3 separate regions of the Homo sapiens genome follow, and regions 1 and 2 are each linked to region 3. Evidence: fine-mapped expression QTL. A gene starts in region 3. Each other region holds a variant in brackets. All regions are shown on one strand. Distances are from middle to middle.

Region 1 (4,248 bases), 39 kb before region 3:
GCTCTGTTGCCCAGGCTGGAGTGCAGTGGCACCATCTCAGCTCACTGCAACCTCTGCCTCCCGGGTTCAAGCAATTCTCGTGCCTCAGCCTTCCAAGTAGCTGGGACTACAGGTGTGTGCCACCACACCCGGCTTTTTTTTTTTTTTGTTTTTGTACTTTTAGTAGAGACGGGGTTTCACCATGTTGACCAGGCTGGTCTTGAACTCCTGGCCTCAAGTAATCCACCCACCTCAGCCTCCCAATACAGGCGTGAGCCACTGTGCCAGGGCTTAATTATAAATTTTCAACTTATAAGTTATTACATATACAAAGCCTTATACCACAGCAATCCATTGGTCCTTTCTGCCACCAGATGACATTAGCATGGCCAATATAACCATTATTTGTGTTTTGGAAAGATCACTCTGGTTGTGGTGTAGAGAATGGATTGGACTGGGAGCAGGCACGACTGCAAGAGGTCAAGTGCTATTGTCTGGGTAAGAGATGATGGCAACCTGGACTACTGTAGTTAGTGGTGAAAGAGAGGTAGATAGATTGTAGTGACATTCAGGAGTTGTGTTGGGGTTTTCAAGACCACCCCCAGATTCAGTCATTCAGTAGGAGGACTCACAAGACTCAGCATATAGCCATAGTCATGGCCGATTTATTACAGTGAATAAACACAAAGAAAATCAGCAAAGGCAAAAGGGCAAAGTCCAGAGGAAACCAGGTGCAAGCTTCTAGAGTCCTCTCATAGTGGAGTCAAACAGGATGTATGTAATTCCTTCAACAACATGTTGTGTCATGTTTGAAATGTAATCTACCAAAGAAGCTCGATGGAGCCTAGGCATTTAGGGTTTTTCTCTGCAGGCAGTAACGTAGGCACCCTCTACCTAGCATGCACCAAAATTCCAGAATCCAAGAAAGAAAGCAGATATTCAGCAAAAAACAAATTGTTGTGCCAACAATTTAGGTACAGTGTAAGTACCTTATCAGGGAATTCTTATCAGGGAATGGTAGGAACCGTCCCAAAGTCCAAGTTCTCAGACACCAGCCAAGGGCCAACCTTATAAGCATGCCCTTCAAAGGACAGCAGTTTTAGCCCTGCTGTGTTAACTCTTCTGTGTCTCCTGCATAGCAGGTAAAATCAATATTTTCTAGTGCATTTCCAACCAAGGGTTTTATAGAATCTATGAAGGTAATATACTTCAGAAATAAACAGTATACCTGGCTTTGTCGTTGATACATATGCCAAAGGATTGTAACATGCCAGCTAACACAGTTAAAGGCTGATAAGCTATTGCGTCTTCAATAATTAAAGTATTACAAATTGAGGACTACTTGCACTGGGTCAGGCACTGTGGATACAAATGGTGACAAAACCACGCATGATCTGTGTCCTGATGGAACTCACAGTCCAGTGACGGAAGAGAGGAATTAATAAAATAATCACAGGGAGAAATATTTAAAGACAAAATTGAAAACTGCTGTAAAGGCAAGAGGTGTTGTACTATGAGCGCAAAACACGGGCATCAGATATGGCCTGGAGGAACAGGGAAAACTTCCCCCCAGGAAGGGACGCTTGAGCTTATCCCAGAAGAATGAATGGGCATTGTGTGAATGAGTGAAGCTGTGTATTGGAGGTAGTGAGGGTAAGGAGGTGGAGGTAATTTCAAGCTGAAAGTCCTATGGCTAATGTGTAGATGAAATGAAATGAAATGTGCCAAACCTCAGAAAGCACTGGAGAAACACTAGCGAAATTTATCTTCTCAAACGGTTGCTGTATCTGCCTACAGAGTTTCTACACAGGGACTCCGAAATTCTACATGGGTAGCAGTCAATTTCAACCCCACAAGAAGATGTAGGTGGGGAGCTGGAAGACCAGGCTTATCTGCAAACGCTGGCTCAGAACAGAGCAGCTGTGGCCTCTGATAAGCAGGGAATAGAGGAAGTGGTTTTGTCTCAGGCCTAAAAACCATTTGCTATCTCACAGCGCCTG[T/C]TAGTAAGTCACCTCCCCTTCAGTGTTTACCAAACATTCAGAGGCCCTGCACCTACAGTTCTGTGGAAACCACAACCTCATTCTCCTCAGTTAAAAGCCCAGTCTTTTTATCCCTTTCCTCCAAGTGGCACTATGGGTGACACAGAGAATTTCTACTCTCCAATTTGGGACTCGGACTCTGAATGTGGTTTCCAGGACTCTCTTTCCTCTTCTGATATGTGGGTGCCAATCCAAATTCAGTTCAACAAATACTTACTAAGCTCTGCTAGGCATTGGCTCCTGTGATAGGGCACTGTGAGTGAAAAATGAATAAGACAAAGCTTCTTCCCTGGAGGGAGATGACCCCCAAAACGTGATTTAAGTCCTCAATTTCCTCTCTCTAGGTTGACCAAGGCAGAACTCTCTTCTCCACCTTAACCAAGCACCTCTGCTGCCCTCCGGGTTTTTTCTGTTTCTGGCATTTGTCCTTCCTGTCTCTAGCTTCTCAGTCTCCTCTCAAGGTCCCAATCATCTCTCTACATCAGCTTTTCTTTTTTTCTTTGTCTGTCTTATACCCTCAATCCCTTGGTCTCTTGTGTCCACTCAGGGCCTGGGTTTTCAGACAGCACAGGGCTTTTATCATGTGGACTGTCTCCTTTGCTGTTTCATCTGTTTACTTCATTTTTGTTGCTCTCAAAAACCAAAACAAAGTAAAACACAAAATAGATGCATTATAAAATAATATTTATTGTGTCCTGCTGAAATGGAGCTTGTAGTCTCATTTCTTAGGCACTTACAAGGTAAAATTTATGAACCATACTTTATTAATGGGCATTTACAAATGCCTGAAATAAAAGGTGACTTGTAGAAGGGATAATATATCTTATTGCAAACATGACACCTAGCTTCTGGAATACGGTTAGTGGCATTTGCCACTAGTGAGCATAATTTCCATGTTCAAATGAATAATGAACTAATCAAAAAACCTTTTTTTGAGGAACTGAGGCACTCAGACACAAAACACAAAATTAGGCACTCAGACAAAAAGCAACTTATTAGCCAGTTGGAGAGAGAGCTAAGAAATACCATATCTATATAATTATCAGAGAATGTGATAAAAAGCTACTACTCTGTACTTGTGTGCCAAATGCTGTAAAAGTATAAATAGAGGGCAATATATTTCGCTTTGGACGGGAGGTTTTAGAAGGCCGCACAAGAGGGATATTCAGTCTGATGCTTGATGTAGACAGAAGGGAGAGAAGGGCATCCCAGACAACATGGGCAAAGGCATGGGAGGATTTGGTGGGTGTGTGGGCCCATGATAATTCTGTGTGGCTGGAGCCTTAGGGAGCAGGCAGGAGACAGCCTGGAAGGTCTGATGGGTCAGATTGCTAAGGAGTGTGGTTCCCCAGGAAAAACATTTTAGTGTGGAAGTGAAGTGATAAGATCCTCATTTTAGAAAGATTGCTCTTTATGTAATAGCAACCCAGGTAACACGTGATAAAGCAATGATCTGAGGGAGTGAGCATGTAGAGGGAAGGTGTATTAGAGAATTAGGCCAATTAAGGGCACATGCCTGAGAGGAGCCATATAGAGAAGTTGGAATTGACAGGACCTATTCTCTGACTAGATGTAGAGGGGATCTGGGGTGACAGGGAGAATGAAGGAGCCAAGGATGAAAAAGTTTTCTGCCTTGGGTAGCTGCTGATTGGTGAAGCAGTGAAGAATAGCAGTTCTGCACCCAGCCCCTGGAGTTGAATCCTGGCTTTTCTATTTACTAGGATGAGCTACTGTGATTCAGCCTTAAAGACTTCACCTTTCTGTGACCCAGTTTCCTACTTTGTAAAAGAGAGCATGGTTGTATCTTCTTCAGAAGGCAGATGAGATTTAATGTTTCTTATGGACTTTAAATGAGTAAATGTAAAACAGGACAGGGAATAGTACATAGTAGGCACTGGATAAATGTTAATTATTTTGATTATGGTGGATCATTAGCATAGGAAAAACACAAGGAAAGCAAGTTGGGAGGTCAGAAACAGACCTGTGAGTTAGATTTTGGACACGCTAAACTTGAGGTGACTTCTGACATCTATGCAGAGATGACCCATAAACTATTGGAAATACAAGTTGTAAATGAAAGAGTTGAGATTATGAGCATTTAAAAATTCTCTGATGAATAATCTATGTAATTATTTGCCTACAATAAGAACTTATAAGAAAAATATTTCTCATTTGCAAAGATTTGGCCATTTTCCAGTCTCAGAATTGATCCATCCCAAACCCAGAGACT
Region 2 (4,248 bases), 61 kb before region 3:
TGCCCGAAGTAATTAATAGATTCACTACTATTCCCATTAAACTATCATTGACATTTTTCACAAAATTAGAAAAAACTATTTTAAAATTTATATGGAACCAAAAAAGGGCTCATATAGCCAAGACAATCCTAAGCAAAAGGAACAAAGCTGGAGGCATCATGCTACTGGACTTCAAACAATACTATAAGGCAGCAATAACCAAAACAGCACGGTACATGGTACTGGTACAAAACAGACACATAGACCAATGGAACAGAATAGAGAACCCATAAATAAGACTGCACATCTACCACTATCTGATCTTCAAAAAACGTGACAAAAACAAGCAATGGGGAAAGGATTCACTATTTAATAACTGGTGCTGGGAGAACTGGCTATCCATATGCAGAAAATTGAAACTGGACCCCTCCCTCACACCTTATACAAAAATTAACTCAAGATAGATTAAAGACTTAAATGTAAAACTCAAAACTATGAAAACCCTAGAATACAATCTAGGCAATGCCATTCAGGACATAGGCATGGGCAAAGATTTCATTATGAAATCACTGAAAGCAATTGCAACAAAAGCAAAAATTGACAAATGGGATCTAGTTAAACTGAAGAGCTTCTGCATAGCAGAAGAAACTATTATCAGAGCCAAGAGGCAACCTACAGAGTGGGAGAAAATTTTTGCAATCTATTCATCTGTTAAAGGTCTAATATCCAGATTCTACAAGGAACTCAAACAAATTTACAAGAAAAAAATCAAACAACCCCATTAAAAGGCGAGCAAAGGACATTAACAGACACTTCTCAAAAGAAGACATTCATGCAGCCAACAAACATGAAAAAAAGCTCAACATCACTGATCATTAGAAAAATACAATTGAAAACCACAATAAATTACCATCTCATGACAGAATAGTGATTATGAAAAAGTCAAGAAACAACAGATGCTTGTGAGGTTCTGGAGAAATAGGAACACTTTTACACTGTTGGGAATGTAAATTAGTTCAACCATTGTGGAAGACAGTGTGGCAAATCCTCAAAGATCTAGAACCAGAAATACCATTTGACCCAGCAATCCCATTTCTGGGTATATACCCAAAGGAATATAAATCGCTCTGTTACAAAGATATATGCATGCATATGTTCATTGCAGCACTATTCACAATAGCAAAGGCCTGGAATCAACCAAAATGCCCATCAATGACAGACGAGATAAAGAAAATGTGGAACATATACACCATGGAATACTATGCAGCCATCAAAAGGAATGAGATCATGTCCTTTGCAGGAATGTGGATGAAGCTGGAAGCCATTATCCTCAGCAAACTCATACAAGAACAGAAAACCAAACACTGCATGTTCTCACTTGTAAGTGGGAGCTGAACAGTGAGAACACATGGACACAGGGAGGGAAACAACATGCACTGGGGCCTCTTGGGGAGTGGGGTTGGGGGAGGGAGAGCATTAAGAAAAATAGATAATGCATGCTGGGCTTAATACCTAGGTGATGCGTTGGTAGGTGCAGCAAACCACCAGGGCACAGGTTTACCTATGTAACAAACCTGCACATACTGCACATGTACCCAGAACTAAAAATAAAAATTAAAAGAAAGAAATGTATTAATTAGTTCCCCCAACAAATATTTTCTGAATATCTGTAACTATGAATTCCATTAAACTTACTCTTCAGGTGTTAAAAAAAAAAAGAAGACATTTATGTGGCCAAGAAACATGGAAAAAAGCTCAACATCACTGGTCATTAGAGAAATGCACATCAAAACCACAATGGGATACCATCTCACACAGGTCAGAATGGCAATTATTTAGAAGTCAAGAAAAAACAGATGCTGGCAAGGCTGTGGAGAAATAGAAACTCTTTTACACTGTTGGTGGGAATGTAAATTAGTTCAACTATTCTGGAAGACAATGCGGGGACTCCTCAAAGACCTAGAGGCAGAAAGACAATTTGACCCAGCAATCCCATTACTGGGTATATACCCAAAAGAATATAAATCATTGTTATAAAGATATGTGTATGTGCATGTTCATTGCACGTGTATCTTCATTGCAGCACTATTCATAATAGCAAAGACATGAAATCAACCCAAATGCCCATCAATGATAGACCGGATAAAGAAAATGTGGTACGTATACACCAC[G/A]GAATACTATGCAGCCATAAAAAGGAATGAAATCATGTCCTTTGCAGGGACATGGATGAAGCCAGAAGCCATTATTCTCAGCAAACTAATGCAGGAACAGAAAGCCAAACACCGCATGTTCTTTAAGTGGGAGCTGAACAATGAGAACACATGGACACAAGAAGGGGAATGACACACACTGGGGCCTGTCGGGGGTGGGGCAGGGGGGAGAGAGAGCATCAGGAAAAATAGCTAATGTATGCAGGGCTTAATACTTAGGTGAGGTTGATAGGTGCAGCAAACCACCAGGGCACATGTTTACCTATGTAACAAACTTGCATATCCTGCACGTGTATCCTGGAACTTAAAATAAAATGATAAAAAAGAAAAAAGATAAAAATAGGTAAATTGTGCTTCATCAAAATTAAAGACTTTTGTGCATCAAAGAACATTATTAAGAAAGTGAAAAGACAACCTACAGAATGGGAGAAAATATTTTCAGGTCATGTATTAAAGGTCTGGTTCCAAGAATGTATAAACAACTCTTATAACTCAATAGCAAAAAGACAAATAATTCAACTAAAATGGGCAAAGGACTTGAATAGACATTTCTCCAAAGAGGATATACAAATGGCCAATAAACACTTAAAAAGATACTCAAAATCATTTGTCATTGGGAAAATGTAAATCAAAACCACAATAATATACCACTTCACACCTATTAGGATGGTGATAATAATCTTTTTAAAAAGGAAAAAAACAAGTGTTGATGAGGATGTGGAGAAATTATAACTCTTGTACACAGCTAGTGGAAATGTAAAATGGTACAGCCATTGTGGAAAACAGTTTGGCAATTTCCCAAAAAGTTAAGCATAGAATTATATGATCTGACAAATCCATTCCTAGGTATATACCCAGATAAAAACAGGTAGTCAAATACTTGTACACATAGCAGCACTATTCGCAAGAGCCAAAAGGCAAAAACAACCCAGGTGTCCACTGATAGATAAATGGATAAATAAAATGTAGTATATACAGAATACAAAATACTATTCAGCCAAAAAGGAATGAAGTACTGATACATGGTTCAGCATAGGTGAACCTGGAAAACATGATGCTAAGTGAAAGAAGTCAGACACGAAAGGTCATATATTGTGTGATTTCATTTATATGAAATTATCCAGAATAGGTAAACCCACAGAGACAGAAAGCAGATCGGTATTTGCCAGGGGCTGGGGGGGAGGGGAGAATGGGAAATGACTGCTTAGTGGGTACAGGGTTTCCTTTTGGGGTGATGAAAATGTTTTAGAATAATAGAAGTGGTGGTTTCACAAAATGTACAAAATGTCACTTTAAAATTATTACATCCTGTTACAAGAATTTCACCTTAATAAAAAATGTCTGAGTGTGAACAGAGAAACAATCAAAGCTGAATCTGGGTTAAGGGACCAAAAACAGAGGCATGAACACCTGGAGGTCACATTGGAGATTGCAGATTCTGAGAGGTGGAAAAACACGTGTCTGAGGATAATGAAAAAATATAAAACAGCTCTCTGCCTGTTGAGCACAATAAACATTTGAAAGATGTGGACGGTTGGTAAAAAGTAGATAACACTGCTCGGGGGCCATCAGGTCACAATCTCTTCACAGAAGAGCATTGCACATTTTGACTCAACCTCAGAATCAGCCCTCATGTGTTTGCTTTACTTACATTTCCAACCACTGCTCTCTCCTGGACCTCAGAATACCTATATCTGCTTCCTGCAAACACACTCAAAGTTAGTTTCTATTTCTTCCTCCCTACAATCCCAGTATGACTGAAGTCCATTGGAATTTAGAACCTTGCTGCTTAGTGTGGTCCATGGACAGGCAGCATTGGTGTCACCTGGGAGCCTCTTAGAAATGCAGAATCTCAGTCCCTATTCCCCAATCAGCATTTTAATAAGATTCCCCCAAGTAATTTATATGCACATTTAAGTTTGACAAATTTCCAACTTTCCATCTATAAAAATCAAAATGAAGAAACAAACGAGATTTATTTTCTCTAGGAAGTCATGATGCTTGATTTTATTTACAATTATTGTTTTGTTCTGTTAGTTTTGCCACCCAGGGCTTGAGT
Region 3 (4,248 bases):
CCCCATTTTGAAGCTGAAACAAGAGTCAGAGGAGGAATGTAACTTCGTCTAGGTCACAAAACTTGTAAACAATTCACTACTAGCTGATTTGACAACTTTATTTCAGTTTCAGTAGATGAAAGAAGTGTATCCTAGAGCTACCTTTTATCTTAGCAGGTATTAACCTTTTGAAGAGCATCAAAAATTTGAAAGCAATGAGTGAAGAGGTCAGGTGGAGCAGAAAGAAGAACCAATGGGATTGGGATTAACCTTGGAATTAGAAAAACCAATGTCTATTTCCAGCTCTACCAATTTAGGTAGTGAAATTTCAGGTGAATTTTTAAACCCCTAAATCTTAATTTATTATTTTTCTTGCATAATGGGATTAATAACGTCTATCTTGCTCATCTCAATGGTTTTCATATGGATGACATAAGAATGTAGGCATAAACATTGTAGAATGTTTTGCAAATTAAGTGGTATCAAATGCTACCTTGTCTGGTCTCTCTCTGGAAGATTAGGGACATCCCTAGTACCATTCCTCATCTACTTGCATTTTCTGTCTGCCATTCTAGAGCGACCAGCAGAGGCTCCAAAAATTTGGTCTGACTAGTGGTTACAATCTCCATGAAGTTCAAATTAAAGGAGCCATAGCTTGAAATGGCCAAAGAAACCAGAGAGATCACAGTGCATTGATTCTACCTTTACAGAAAATCCAAACGTACTAGGTTCCCAGGGTTCTAACTCATGCCAGAATTCTGCTAGTGCATTTTCAGAACTGGCAAGAGATACTAGAAGTAGATCTAGAAGTTCCAAACATAGTAAATTTCTGTTAGAGCAATTGTTTGTATTTAAGGAGATAACATGTACAATGACACAGCACTCCCAGATCTATGTTAATGTTACAATTTTCTTTGTACAAATAACAATCAATATTCATGTCGTTCTTTTAGTTTACTGTTATGCCATAAGTAAGAAAAATAGGGTTTTTAATTCAAGTTCTCCAACTCTTTTTTGAGACTATTTGTAAAAAATGGGATAGTAATCTCTTCCTCATTTATTTTAGAGTTTGTTGAGGATAAAAGCAGAGTAATAGCTCTGTGTTTTGAAAATAAAGGGAGTTTATAGAGATGAGGCTCAACAATGATAACGATGAGTCATCCATCACTCTAACCTGATAGAACAATCAACTATAATTAGGAAAGACATTTTTCTCTCTCAAACGCCATCACAATTGAATGCCAAGAAGAAATTGCTTGTAAGTCATTCAAGCTTTTAGAAGATCTTTCTTTTGCCAGGCTTTTTGGGTGGGTTTACCAAGTGCTGATTCCTCTGAGAAGGATTTGCCTCAGACCTTTGGAAACTGAGATCTCCAGATCTCAGAAATATAACTCAGTAATATAAACTTTAAAGCTGAACCTAAACACTTAGGTTTGAATTTTAAGTCTCTCCCCAGCCAGTTGGATCCTGTTGAGTACAGTAGATACTGAGACCCAGGGTGTTCTGCTAAACACAGATCAAAAAGACAGTTCAATGTCTTCCTTAAGGGCAATTTTTAAAACTTTATGGAAAACTAGGAGGCGATCAGCAAGGGTCAGAACTCACAGGTTTGCAGGCAAAGGAGCAAGATCCATAGGTGGTGCTGAGCCATCTCTTTCAGGGTCTAACCTTCTGTGGAAAAGCACGGCACTGTTCTAGCAGAGTCAGTTTCACTTGAGTTTTCTTCCTCCTTTTTATAACGACATTTAAGAAAGGAAGTGCATGTTAACTGATTTAGTTAACATTGGTCTTTGTATTACTGTGCTAGTTTTTTCCAATTTAAAGTGCCTAGCATTAATTATTTATTCAACACATATTTATTGTGTGCCTACTATGTGCCAGGCCCTCTTCTGGGTGCTGGCAATATACAGAGCAACAAAACAATTGATCACCCTCCTTTCATGGCATTTATACTCTTTTTTGGAGTAATCAACAACTCTATAAGCAGTTCCAATTTAATGTAGTAAGCATTGCAATAGGAAAAATACAGGGAACTATGAGAGGAATAGGGGCATCTAACTCAGGCTAAGAAAAGTTGGAGTAGGCTTCCTAAAGAAACTGACAACCAACCTGAGACAGGCTCAAAGAATGAATTACCATTATTAGGCGAATGGCGGTGGGGGATATGAAAGAGGAAAAATGTTTTGACATATGGTAGGAGCTTAAAAAAACATAGCAATTAAAATTACATAATTATAGTTATATAAAATGATCACAAGTACATGATTATGTATTATAATGTATAATCAACATGTGATATTATTTAACATAATCAATATTAAGTATTATATTAATAATATATAATTATATTTATATATGATACAATAATATATAATTATATAATATATTAATATATAATATAGTATAACTACATACATATAATTATGTATAATTCCATGATATCATCATGAAACATTATGATTATGATCACACCTTATTAGGGACACAAAAAGTGTTTGATAAAAATGAAGTCAAAAGGGATTTTTAGACTATTGAATCTATTTTGCAGATGGAGAAACTGGCTCAGAAGGAGAGGAAGTGACTTTTCCCTATATCACACAGTGAATTAGGGAACTGAGTTAAAAGCCAGCAGTGTCACTTGGCAAAGACTGTGACTCCTGGGCATGAGAGACAGCAGGTGCAGAGGCAGGCTTAGGTGGAGTTGAGCTAGATGTAACAGGACTATTTCTTGTAGAGGGTCTTCATCTTGGTTAACAAGAATAAGAGTGATTGTGTAATGTGTGTATGGGAGATGTTGTCTGGGAATGGGGATAGAAATGAATATTTAAGTTTGACTCAGCTGTTTTGGGGAGTAATGAGAAGGCTGGGGACACTACCCCTGAGACCTGGAGGAGCTTTTTTTTAACTGAGACGAGTCCTCATGCTAGCTAGCTCATTCCTAGGTAACCTGGCCTCTAGAGTCACACATTAAATAATCCTGCTGATCATTTCCCATATATACTTACATAATACTGAATATAGTTGACCCTTGAACAATGCAGGGGTTTGGAGTGCTGTCCCCTCAACCAGTCGAAAATCCATGCATAACTTTTGACACCCCTAAACTCAACTACTAATAGCCTACTGTTGACAGGAAGCCTTACCAACAACACAGTTGATTAACACATATTCTATGTGTCATATACATTGTTTACCATATTCTTGCAGGAAAGTAAGCTAGAGAAAATAAAATGGTATTAAGAAAATCATGATGAAGACAAAATATATTTACTGTTCATTAAGTGGAATTAGATCATCATAAAGGTCTTTATCCTCATCATCTTCATGTTAAGTAGGCTAAGGAGGAGGAGGATAAGGAGGAGTTGGTCTTGCTGTCTCAGGGGTCCCTGGGGAAGAAGAGATAGAGGAGGTTGAAGGGAAGGTGGAAGAGACAGGCACAGTCGGTGTAACTTTTCAGAAGTATATTTAATTTTTGTCTGACTTTTTTGCTTGTTCATTTCTCTAAAAATATTTCTATATGGTACCCCTTCTTACTTCTACCATTTGTTTTAGTTTTAGTGCCTGTATCATACCATAGATGGGCCCATATCATAAAAGAAGTCAAAAGCGGTCCCGAATAGTCAGAAGCCTTCTGTCAGACTGTCTAATGTCAGCTTGTTTTCTGGCACTGCTGCTTCTATGTTTTCTTCCGCATTGTTTGATCCTGGCTTAGATGCATTCTTCTCCATCAAGTCATCTTCCATTAATTCCTCTGGTGTGGTGTCTATTAGCTCTTGAATTTTGCCAAGATTTATTTCTTGAAACCTTTTACCCCAACTTTTTTTTTTGCCATATCCACAATATCTTTCATAATTTCCTTGATTAGCTCTGTCATAAATCCTGTGAAGTCACGCACAACATTTGGACACAGTTTCCTCAAGCAGAGTTTATTGTCTCAGGCTTAATGGCTTTCACCACTTTTTCTGCAACAATGATAGCATCTTTAATGGTGTAATCTTTCTAGACTTTCATGATGGCCCTCTCCTGGGGTTGTCTTCCTAGGCATTGACAATTCTTTCCATAGAGTACGTATATAATGAGCCTTAAAGGTCCTTATGACCCCCTGTTCTAGAGGCTGAATTAGAAACATGTCTGGGGAGAAGTATACCATTTCAGTGCCTTTGCTGTTGAACTCCTGGGGCTCTGGGTGGCCAGGGGCACTGTCCAATATCAAAATAACTTTAAAACGCAGTCCCTTACTGGCAAGGTATTTCCTGACTTCAATGACAG

The links. PIP is the estimated chance that this variant, and not a neighbour inherited with it, causes the effect.
Region 1: its variant is the best candidate, but not a certain one, in a credible set for the expression of CD84 in whole blood (INTERVAL, PIP 0.59).
Region 2: its variant is the best candidate, but not a certain one, in a credible set for the expression of CD84 in whole blood (TOPMed, PIP 0.89).

What each region holds. Positions count from the first base shown.
Region 1 is chr1:160,538,413-160,542,660 of GRCh38, forward strand. It overlaps CD84 (CD84 molecule), which reads right to left. Exons shown (of 7, transcript NM_003874.4): 7 at 2,686-4,248. The region is part of intron 1 of CD84-AS1 (CD84 antisense RNA 1); the gene reads left to right. Among named protein-coding and RNA genes, the nearest start is that of CD84-AS1, 3.4 kb to the left of the region's middle. RefSeq lists enhancers at 1,682-1,771, 1,787-2,081. The variant T/C (reference allele first, on the strand shown) is at 1,980.
Region 2 is chr1:160,516,425-160,520,672 of GRCh38, forward strand. The region is part of intron 1 of SLAMF6 (SLAM family member 6); the gene reads right to left. Among named protein-coding and RNA genes, the nearest start is that of SLAMF6, 4.7 kb to the right of the region's middle. The variant G/A (reference allele first, on the strand shown) is at 2,151.
Region 3 is chr1:160,577,808-160,582,055 of GRCh38, forward strand. It overlaps CD84 (CD84 molecule), which reads right to left and starts at 1,689. Exons shown (of 7, transcript NM_003874.4): 1 at 1,585-1,689. The coding sequence starts at 1,630.